Homo sapiens: one gene and its partners. The protein of the gene in region 3 purifies or fractionates together with the protein of the main gene of each other region. This does not show direct contact. Each region holds a gene or a part of one and is shown on either strand. Other genes may lie near its edges.

Region 1 (3,652 bases), on a different chromosome or scaffold from region 3:
GTCATTGCCTTCAAACCAGAAAATGAAGTTCAGGCCAAGTTTCCTTGCCAACCTCCACTTAAATGGACTGCTGGGTCAATCAAGATTCTCCATTCCAAACGTAAACTGACCAAGGCCCACATCTAGATTTTAGGCCACTCCCTAGCACACTGGCACACCACTGAATTCAGTGCTTGTCAAGAATCAATTGTTTGTTCACACATCTGTTTGATGTCAGTTGTACTTGTTATCGTCGTGTTGAGTAATTTAATTATCATATAAACTGACAAAAAGAGTATCCACAAAAACTAAGCTGAACAGTTTGAAAAATCCAATAAAGGAATGTCACAGAAAAAAGTTCTTGGCAGATGAGGGGTGTCCTAAACTACTGTATAAAATTGAAAACAAATTAAAACTCCTGAAGCATATCAGTTCATACGCCTTTAAGTTCTGACCCCACCCAAAAGAAACTCAAAGTAGCAATGGTAGATTATGTTTTATGAAGGAGGGTGTGCAAGATGCAGCTGAAACCAGTGGCCCAGCACTCAAAGCCTGCAATCCTACATCAAACTACGGGCAACTCAGTGTGTATTAATATTTTGAGTTTAATTCAAATATTAACTATTTAAGGGGGTATGTATTTATGTATTTTTTTTAATGATTCCCTACTATAAATGACACTTTTGATTAGTGGACAGGTTTTCAAATAGCACTCAGAAGACACTGTTTTTTATAACCAGACTGTGTCAGACTTTTAGTAAACAAGCCTCCACACATTCAACTGCAGTGTCCATTAAGTGCTGTAGAGGTACAAAAAACAGCCTCCTTGGCCAGGTGCAGTGGCTCACGCCTGTTAATCCCAGCATTTTGGGAGGCCGGGGCAGGTGGATCACGAGGTCAGGAGTTTGAGACCAGCCTGGCCAACATAGTGAAACCTTGTCTCTACTAAAAATACAAAAAATTAGCTGGGCTTGGTGGTGGGCGCCTGTAATCCCAGCTACTTGGGAGGCTGAGGCAGGAGAATCGCTTGAACCTGGGAGGCAGAGGTTGCAGTGAGCTGAGATCACGTCACTGCACTCCAGCCCGGGGGGTGACAGTGCGAGACTCCGTCTCAAAAAAAAAAAACCCAAAAACCTCCTTGATAATAGTGGACAGTTACAAACTAGGCTAATAGTTTATAGGAACTATCACTGAACCCTTGCGAGGTTCCCAATGTTGCTTACATTACACAAATGAAAAAACTGAGACTTAGAGATGTTAAGCTACTTGTCCTCGATCACACAGCAGGACAGACCCATCATCTGATCCCAGGACATCTAATCCCCTTTTCTTCATCACTTACCTGCCAATATGTTACTAATGTCTTATACATGATGAAATGAAACAAGCAAGCTACAATACAGTAACGTGCAGAGCAAGCCCACTGATTTTCAGTATATGTACGTACACATAAAAAAGACAGGAAAGCTATAAATCAAAATACTCATTAGGGTATCTCTGAATAATACAGTTACAGCTGATTTTAGTTTTCATCTTTGTGCTTTTCTTAGTTTCCAAAATATCTGCAATGAAAAGACATTACTTTGGCAATCAGAAGAAAAAAGCCATCTGTGAGCTCTGCCCTTTACTTCTTTTTTTTTTCTTTAGAGACGGAGTCTCGTTATGTCGCCCAGGCTGGAGTGCAGTGGCACGATCTCTGCTCACTGCAAGCTCCGCCTCCCAGGTTCATGCCATTCTCCTGCCTCAGCCTCCGGAGTAGCTGGGACTACAGGAGCCTGCCACCATGCCCAGCTAATTTTTTGTATTTTTAGTTGAGACAGGGTTTCACCATGTTAGCCAGGATGGTCTCAACCTCCTGACCCCGTGATCTGCCTGCCTCAGCCTCCCAAAGTGCTGAGATTACAGGTGTGAGCCACCGTACACGGCCTGCCCTCTACTTCTTTACCACATGTGCAGGGCTGTTTTAATTTTTAAAAAGATCTGAAATTTAACAGCATCAGGTTATTCTTATTTTTAGTAACCATTAAAACATCAAAGGTTGGGGGACAGCATTCACCACCATCCTGAAAAATCGCTCTTCTTGGATATATAAACCAATATTAGAACTTTCTTTGCTATAATTTATAGCATTATAAAACCATAAAACAAAATGAAAAGCCAAACAATCATTATATACAAGTATTCAACAGCTTTCTATAGGGAAAAAAGTCTACAATGCAATTATAGCTATCATTTCATTACCTTTTCTGTAAACAAGTCTGCTGACAACAACAATAGTTATACTATCATGCCTTCTAAATGGGTCTGGAGTGAAGTCAGTAGGATCTACAGCATTAGGAATGACGGACACTATTTCAGGATTCAGTGCTGCTCTTAGTACAGTATTTTCCTTACTAGTATAAGACACACAAATGATGTGGTTTGTATCACAAAGAGACACGGTTAGAAGCTTGTTTGTAAGCACCGAGCTGACATCAGCAAATCCAAAAAGGGAATGGTCCGTGAAGACTGTCTGAAGCCCCATTGTCTTGGCGTGGAAGAGAGCATCATGGGCCATAGCAGAAAAAGAACTATGTGAATGGATTATCGTGACTCTCTCCCGAACAAATATGTACCTGAGCAATGGCAGACTGTGAAAGAGGGTCGTGGCTGTAGACTGGTTGTACATGACTTTCAGAGGCAAGTAATAGACTTTGAGGCCACTGGTGAGGTAACGGATGCCTTTTCGATTTCCATAAGCATGGGTGACAATTATAACCTTATGCCCTCTTTCAATCAGGCACTGAGAGAGCTGGTAAATGTGGCTTTCCACGCCTCCCATATTTGGGTAGAAAAAGTCAGATACCATGCATATATTATGGGTACGGGTTCTACATGTGTAAAGACTTCCAGGGCTAACCCGAGAGAGTGTAGCTGAGGCACGGTGGCCATTCCCAGCTCCTCCTCTACAGGCCATGCTGAGACGGTTTAGACATCAGTTCTTAGAGCAACCCAGTTAAGAGATGTGTCCTCTATTACCTGAAAAAGAGTAAAACAGGATCTCAGCTCAGAAACAAAACACATTCCATATTACAAATCCAGATATAGATATTGTTTTAATGTTAATGTAAATTTGTTAGCTTTCCCCAGAATTAAAAATAAAGCAAATCATCAATTTACTCATTTGACATTTACTTGCTTGGCATTTACATACAACAAAACTAGGTTCTACCATGTCTTAATTTTGCCCTAAAAATACTGCTACATGTAACTTTAAATAGTAAGTTTGTTACACCACAGCATATCATGGTTTACCACGTTAACAAACCAGTCTCTTCCAATAATTAAGTATATATACACACATACATACACACATTTATATATTTCCCCTTTACTCTTATACTTTACCAGCTTCTATTAATACTTATTAAATGGCCACTATACATCAGCTACTACATGCTAAGACTCTTCTATATCTTATTGCAGCCTCACCAAAACTCCATGAGTTATCAACTCCATCTTATAAATGGAAAGTCTAAAGCTTAAAGGGGTTAAGAAATTTGTTCAGTTATTCAGTGCTTAGAGGTAACACAATGTAGCAGTCTGATTCATTAGCGGTCATGTCTTCTGGTATTTATGCCCTTCTATAGTATAGTCCCTTCCCGTTGCATTTGGACCTGGTTTAGCCCATAGA
Region 2 (3,652 bases), about 11 Mb from region 3:
TGCTTCAGAGGTTTCCTCTAATACAAAACGTGTACAGTAAGATCTGTGATACAAGTAAACATATTACAATTCTACTACAATGTTCTTCTTCAAAATACTCTTCACTTTAAAAGCTTATATTTTCTTAAAGATATTTTGACAGTAGTTGCACTTATGTTTTTATTGAGTATGAACTCTCTGATGTTGAGTAAGATGTGAGCATGTATTAATGGCTTTTTCACAGTCTTTATATTTGTACAATATTTCTCAAGTATAAATGCTTTCCTGTGAAGGTGTGAGCATTAGTTAAAAGTTTTGTCACACTGTTCACACATGTAGAAGTTTTCTCCAGTATAACTTACCTTACCTACAATCAAGTGTGACAACCATTTAAAACTTTATCACATTCTTCACATTTCTAGGATTTCTCAACACTATGATTTATGTTTTGAAAAGTTTGAGGTGTTTTCAAAGCACTGTCACATCTTTCTGGTTTGTAGAATTTCTCTCTAGTATGAATTATCTTATGTCTGTTAGGAATTGAGAATTTATTAAAGGCTTTGCCATATTCTTCACAGTCACAGGAGTTCCCTCCAGTATGAATTTTTTTATGTTTAGTAAGAGTTGAGGACTGGTAAAAGGCTTTGCCACATTTTTCACATTTGTAGGGTTTCTCTCCAGTATGAGTTATTTTGTTTAATAAGGCTTAGGGACTGGTTAAAGTCTTTACCACATTCTTCCCATTTGTAAGATTTCTCTCCAGTATGAGTTATCTTATGTTTAGTAAGGGTTGAGGATCGGTTAAAAGCTTTGCCACATTCCTCACATTTGTAGGGTTTCTCTCCAGTATGAATCATCTTATGTGCAGTTAGTTGTGAGGACCGGTTAAAGGCTTTGCCACATTCGTCACATTTGTAGGGTTTCTCTCCAGTATGAATCATCTTATGGGTAGTAAGGTTTGAGGACTCATTAAAAGCTTTGCCACATTCTTCACATTTGTAGGGTTTCTCTCCAGTATGAATTCTCTTATGTTTAGTGAGGGCTGAGGACCAGTTAAAGCCTTTGCCGCATTCTTCACATTTGTAGAATTTCTCTCCAGTATGACTTGTCTTATGTTTAGTAAGGTATGAGAATCGGTAAAAAGCTTTGCCACATTCTTCACATTTGTAAGGTTTCTCTCCAGCATGAGTTATCTTATGTGTAGTAAGGGTTGAGGACTGGTTAAAGGCTTTGCCACATTCTTCACATTTGTAGGGTTTCTCTCCAGTATGAATTATCCTGTGTGTAGTAAGGTGTGAGGACCGGTTAAAAGCTTTGCCACATTCTGTACATTTGTAGGGTTTCACTCCAGTATGAATTCTTTTATGTGTAGTAAGGTGTGAAGACCGGTTAAAAGCTTTCCCACATTCTTCACATCTGTATGGTTTCTCTCCAGTATGAATTATCTTATGTGTAGTAAGGTGTGAGGACCGGTTAAATGCTTTCCCACATTCTTCACATTTGTAGGGTTTCTCTCCAGTATGAATTCTCCTGTGTGTAGTAAGGGTTGAGAACCAGTTGAAGGCTTTGCCACAATCTTTACATTGGTAGGAATTCTCTGTAATATGAAATCTTTTATGTTGAGTTAGGTGTAAAAGCATGCAAAATGATTTTTCACATTTTTTACATTTGAAAGGTTTCTTTCTAGTATGTCTTATCTTATGTCTGTTTGAATTTGAAAATGTATGAAAGACTTTTGCAGATGGATCACATTGAAATATGTTGCTCTGGGTAGTTATCAAACACTGGTTTAATTTGTTATCATGTTCTTTGTGCACTTTACACTCATCCACACTTTTACAGCCTTTTTGTAACTGTAAATTGTCATGTCCATATTTTCCATATTTTTTCAGAATCGCTTCTTGAAAAGAATCTTTAATGTCCTGCTCTGCCCAAAGGTCTTGGGGAAAATGAGAACATATAACTGAAAGAAATAAAAATAACAAATTACTTTACTTACTAGACACAGATAGTTTACAAATCTAACCTCTAATATACAAACTACATAAATAAGATGGCATAGGAAAATACCAAAGGCCCTCATTCCTTTATAGACATATAAATGTAAAAAAAAAAAAACCAACCAAATTACATCTGAAAAAAATTATAAATGAGTTAAGTGTGTGAAGTGCCCCTGGTGAGAACAATGCAAAGAGCCACTTAGAAGTAAAAGTCTGTACATTTACCCAACAGAGCTCTTTCTGCTCCCCAATATAACATACTGTCTTTAGAAGTAAATTGCCAACTTGTTTTTAATGACAAGTAAAATACTGGCACATTTATCTTTATTACTTGCTTCTAGGAGCCTTTCCAGACACTGGTTTGTGTCTCTCTTGAAATATAATGCTGAAAGAAACGGTGGTATACTTTGGAGTGACAGTCTTAACTTTGCTGAGACCAAAGGTAAATGTTTCAGCAACAGAGAGACTGCTGTACCACAGACAGAAAACAGGTGTAGCACGTGATTATTATTAAGAAGAAACATGAATAAACTCCTTTAACTAAAAGAGAAAGACAAAATCTCAGACAAGACACATTCTAAGAACATGTTTGAGAGACTCCCAGAATCTCTAACCAAGACGATTGTTCAGACTATGCCAGGACAAAGCTACATTATAAAGATTGTGACAGGTAGCCTTTTTTAATGTCCAAATTTCAATCAAGGATTACAATGTATACAAAATAAGGCAATATGGTTCCATAAAAATATAAAATTTTAAAAAAGAAACTATAAAAAAGATGTATACACACCGATTTTAAAAATTGAAAATAAATTGAATAATACTCAGTGAGTGAAACAGGAAGACAGAGAACTATAGAAAATCAGAAAAATGAAGATAAGAACATAAATATTTAGAATATCAAAAAAACAAATTGTGGAGGTAATAAATATAAAAAAGAATAGCTGAAAAATATTGAAAGAAACGATGTAAAGATGAAGAAGCTCAACAAACAAACTAGGAAACACACAAAGATATTTATAACAAACACATATATAAGCACAATTTCAAAAGTCACAGACAAGAGAACCTTGGGAGCTGCAAGATAAAAGTGATGCGTCATTTGCCAGCATAGTCTTATGAGACAGCCAGTGAATTGTCAATAAAAATTTTGCAGGCCAGAAGGGAAGTGTGTAATAAAGTCAAACTCCTGTAAAATACAGCAATCAAGTAAGCATAATACTATCAGCAAATCTGTCCTGCCAAATAAAAAGAAAATAACTTTCAAAAGTAACAAAATTCTGAAAAGTATATTGGAACTCCATAAACCCTACATACAAAATGTACTGAAAGCAGTTGCTTCTATTGAAAATAACATGATTCAACAAAAACAACACAGTCAAATAAAAATACATTACTTTCGGGAGGGGGGAGGGATAGCATTAGGAGAAATACCTAATGTAAACGACGAGTTAATGGGTGCAGCACACCAACATGGCACATGTATACATATGTAACAAACCTGTACATTGTGCACATGTACCCTAGAACTTAAAGTATAATAATGAAAGAAAAAATAAAAACAAAACAAAACAAAAACAAAAAACAACAAAAAAATACATTACTTTCTGGGAAAGATTATATGCACATATATACTTTTACTTCTAAGTATATGCACATACACCAAAATGGAA
Region 3 (3,752 bases):
AGTGCATAGCTCACTGCAGCTTCAAACTCCCGAGCTCAAGCAATCCTCCCACCTGAGCCTCCCAAGTAGCTGGAACTACAGGTGTGCACCACTATGCCTGGTTATTTTTTTATTTTTTATTTTTGTAGAGATGAGGTCTCACTGTGTTGCTCAGGCTGGTCTTAAACTCCTGGCCTCCAGCAATTCTCTTGCCTTGGTCTCCCAAAGTGCTGGGATTACAGGCACCTGCCACCGCACCCTGGCCTGCTCCTACAACTTTGAAGGGCTTCCCCCTACCAAGGGGCTTTGCTCGCCCAGCAGCAGCAGAGGCAGGAGGGGAGGCAGTTCTGATAATCCCCATTTACAGGGCACGCAGCTAGTGACGGAACCATCCTCTTCCCCCGTGCCAAGCTGACTTTGAGGAGGAAAGCAGAACTCCCCAGCCACCCCTCAAGCACCCACCTCCGTGGGGTTTGGCCCTTACTTTCACCTTCTGCTCTGGCCCGGGGGGTTACGGGCCCAGAGTCGGGGGGTGGGGGGAAACCCAACTTCCCGGGGTTCAGGATGTGTGTCAGATCCCGCCTGGCCAGGAAGCAGGAACCGCTGCCCCCACCCAGGACACCCAGGCCCCCTGGACAGAGCCAGGCCAAAGCTCCTAAGCATGGAGCGCCTGTCCCCCTGCTCTGCTCACCAGGGATGCCAGCACCCAGCAGCTCAGAGCCCAGCACACATGACCCCGCACTGAGGTTGGGGTGGGCGCGCTGGGGTTACACCCTCAATGCTCCCCAATGGCACATTCCCACTGAGCCAGGCTCACACAGCTGGGGCAAGGGCCTGCCAGAGCCTCGGAGCTCCCTGAGGCCTGGGGGTGATTACTTTGTCATTTCAGTGGCTTCAGCAAACCTGTCAGGTTACAGAGCCCTCACTGGTGACATCACAGGGTGTCCCCTAATGACCCCCAGTTCTTATAATGGCCTCCCTCCTTCATCACAGTAAATAAAGGAGCCATGTGGGTTGGGGATTTAACTCCTCCTCTCGCCTACACAGAGCGCTGGAAAGCTGGACAGAAAAACTCCCGGACAGGGCGGGAGCCCCTCCCACCCCATGCCTGGCCTTGACCGGTCCCTGGCCCAACCCAAGCACCCTCCTAAACTGAACAGGCCTGCCTGGGGGCTGAGAGACACAAAGGGAAAACAGGAGTCCCCTGGAAGCCGCCTCCACACTGGCACCCTCCTCCAGCCCTGCCCCGCACCCCGAGTCCCCATCTGCGGCTTACACCAGCCCCCACCCCAACTCCGGGCCGGAAACAGTTTCTTCTTCAGGGGACAGCCGGCCTGGCCTTTGTCCCCAGCTCCCGGGGCCCCCTCGTCTCCAGGCTCAGCGCGGGCGGGCCGGGTTGAAGGCTGCCGCCTGCACGAAGGGCCTCCTGCCAGCGCTCAGCCCGGGCTCCGGGCGCTACTCCGAGCGGGGCGGGAGCCGGGGCTGCGCCACCAGAGTCGCCCTCCCAGGCCCGGGGCCAGGCGGGCAAGCGGTGCTGGCCCCTCTCTGGGTCTCCGCGCGGGAGCCACCGCGGTGGGGGGCTCGGGATGCCGCGGCCGGAGAGGAGGTCGGTCAGGGCGCGGCGCGGACTGCCATGCGGGGGACCCGGACCTGCCCGGCCCGCGCGGCCCACTCACCCAGACAGACGACGGCCAGCTGCGCCCGGGCGCCCGGCGCGCCCTCCAGCCCCGCGGCCGCGCGCTTCTCCATGCCGGGCCCGGCCGCCCGCGGGCGCCGCCTCCTGCCCCGCGGCTCCGGCTCCGGTTCCGGCTGCGGCTCCGGCTCTGGCTCTGGCTGCGGCTCGGGCTCGGGCTCGGGCTAGGGCTCGGGCTCCGGCTGGCGTGGCTGCTGCGGCCCGGGTGCAGGCGGCGGCTCCCGAGGCGTCTTTGTGCGGTGGCGGTGCAGGCCCGTAGGGCGCGCGCGGCCACATCGGCCGCGGCGTCACGGGCCCTGCGGGGGCTCAGCGGCGGCCGCCAGGGAAGACCCCCGCCCGCCGCTGCCCCCGCGCCCCGGGAGCCCCGCCGCGGCCGGCCTGGGCCCGGGGACCCCCGGCGCGCCCATGCCCCGCGGCGCGCAGCCCGCCCGGCCCCGGCGTCCCCGGGCCGCCCCGCGCTGCGCCCAGCCCGCCCGGCCGGGTGCCGCCGGTAGAGCGTCCGTGGGTCTGTCAGTCCTCCCGCCCGGCCCCTCGCCCGCGCCCGGAGCCTGGAGGCCGCGCTGCGCCAGCCACGTGACGCGCCCGCCGAGCCGCAGTGGCGCTGGCTGGGCGGGCGGAGGCGGCTGGGGCGGGCCGGGGGCGCACGCCCCGCCTCGGGGTGCTGGACAGCTCTGCGCACCAGCCCCGCCCCGCCCGCGCCCCCCGCCGCGCTCCCCGCGCTCCAGCCCAGTGCTCCAGGCAGCCGGTGCTCGCCTGGCCTCCTCCCGGGCCCACGAATTGATCCCTCCTGGAGCCGGCTGTGCTGAGGAGGACCGGGGAGCGAGGACTGGGAAAAGGTGGGAGAGAGAGGACGGCTTAGGGACCTCATAGGGGTGGCACAAGGCTAAGGCCTGTCTTCTTCGCAAGGTGTCCCTGTTCCTGCCCCTCCGCTTCTTTCATTTGCCACAGTCCAAGTGCCCTGTCACGTCTCTAAGAGGAACCCCCTGTGCCAAGCAAGACCTGTCAGGGGACATTGGTGAACACACCAGAGGCCTCTGGAGATCTCCCAGGGCCCCCTGAGCCCACCCTGTTACCCACTATCCTCGTGAGGCTGGGGACTTGGGAGGAGGCCTGCTTCTTAGGCTGGGGGTGCCCTCTGGAGAGCTGCCCACCAAGAGGTTGAGTCCAATGAGGCAAGAACCAGGAGAGACAGGGGGAAGGTTTGAGAAGGCCATTTAGGGCCAAGACGGATGTGAAATCAGAGGTCCCCAAAGGCTCCATGGCACAGCGGGCCCACCAACCTGAGCTGAGGCTCCCAACCCTTTTCTAACACCCCCAGACCCTCATTTGATATTCTCCGTTTATGGAGAGAAGGTTGAGAGAAACTGATGGTCCGTTAGTGAAAGCGTAGACAGTCACTCACTCACTCGCACTGTGCAGGTTGATTGGATTTTAATAAAAAATGGGGGGAAGAAAAATCCTTTTAGTTTTTCTGGGTTTTCTTATTCTCTCTCTTCTAATTCCTTTGGTGATTTTTCCAAAGCAGACTTCTTAGGAAATGTATTAAAGGACGTAAAAATCAAATAACAAGATACATTACAGATTGATGGCATAGAGCACTAGCCTATGTGTAATTTGGTTTCAGAATTTCCTCAGACTGCTGACTGCGGATGAGCAGGCATTTATTTACGCATGGCAAAAATGCTCAACAGAGGCAGGGGCAATGGTAGGGTGGATCTGCGGTTTGTTCGTTTGTTGTTGTTGTTGTTGTTGTTGCTGCTGCTGCTGCTGCTTCTTAGTTTTTTTAGAGACAGTCTCACTTTTTCACCCAGGCTAGAGTGCAGAGCTGCAACCATAGCTCACTGTACCCTCAAACTCCTGGGCTCAAGCAATCCTCCCACCTCAGCCTCCCAAGTAGGTGGGATGACAGGTGTGCACCACCATGTCAGGCTAATTTTTTCATTTTTTTGTAGAGACAAGGTCTTGCTCTGTTGCCCAGGCTGGAGTGCAGTGGTGTGATCACGGCTCACTGCAACCTCAAACTCCTGGACTCAAGGGATCCTCTTGCCTCAGCCTCCCAAAGTGCTGGAGTTACAGACAG

The links.
Region 1: the proteins of LRP3 (region 3) and PIGA purify together in Homo sapiens (affinity purification with mass spectrometry; one large-scale study listed by BioGRID and IntAct). This does not show direct contact.
Region 2: the proteins of LRP3 (region 3) and ZNF100 purify together in Homo sapiens (affinity purification with mass spectrometry; one large-scale study listed by BioGRID and IntAct). This does not show direct contact.

What each region holds. Positions count from the first base shown.
Region 1 is NC_000023.11:15,328,996-15,332,647, forward strand, and holds part of PIGA (phosphatidylinositol N-acetylglucosaminyltransferase subunit A), read right to left. Parts: intron 2,998-3,652; 5' UTR 2,936-2,997; coding exon 2,221-2,935; intron 1,653-2,220; exon of another isoform or gene 1-1,652. UniProt on the Homo sapiens protein: Catalytic subunit of the glycosylphosphatidylinositol-N-acetylglucosaminyltransferase (GPI-GnT) complex that catalyzes the transfer of N-acetylglucosamine from UDP-N-acetylglucosamine to phosphatidylinositol and participates in the first step of GPI biosynthesis.
Region 2 is NC_000019.10:21,726,048-21,729,699, forward strand, and holds part of ZNF100 (zinc finger protein 100), read right to left. Parts: intron 1,943-3,652; coding exon 636-1,942; 3' UTR 1-635.
Region 3 is NC_000019.10:33,192,762-33,196,513, reverse strand, and holds the start of LRP3 (low-density lipoprotein receptor-related protein 3 precursor), read right to left. Parts: upstream 2,185-3,752; 5' UTR 1,729-2,184; coding exon 1,656-1,728; intron 1-1,655. UniProt on the Homo sapiens protein: Probable receptor, which may be involved in the internalization of lipophilic molecules and/or signal transduction. Its precise role is however unclear, since it does not bind to very low density lipoprotein (VLDL) or to LRPAP1 in vitro.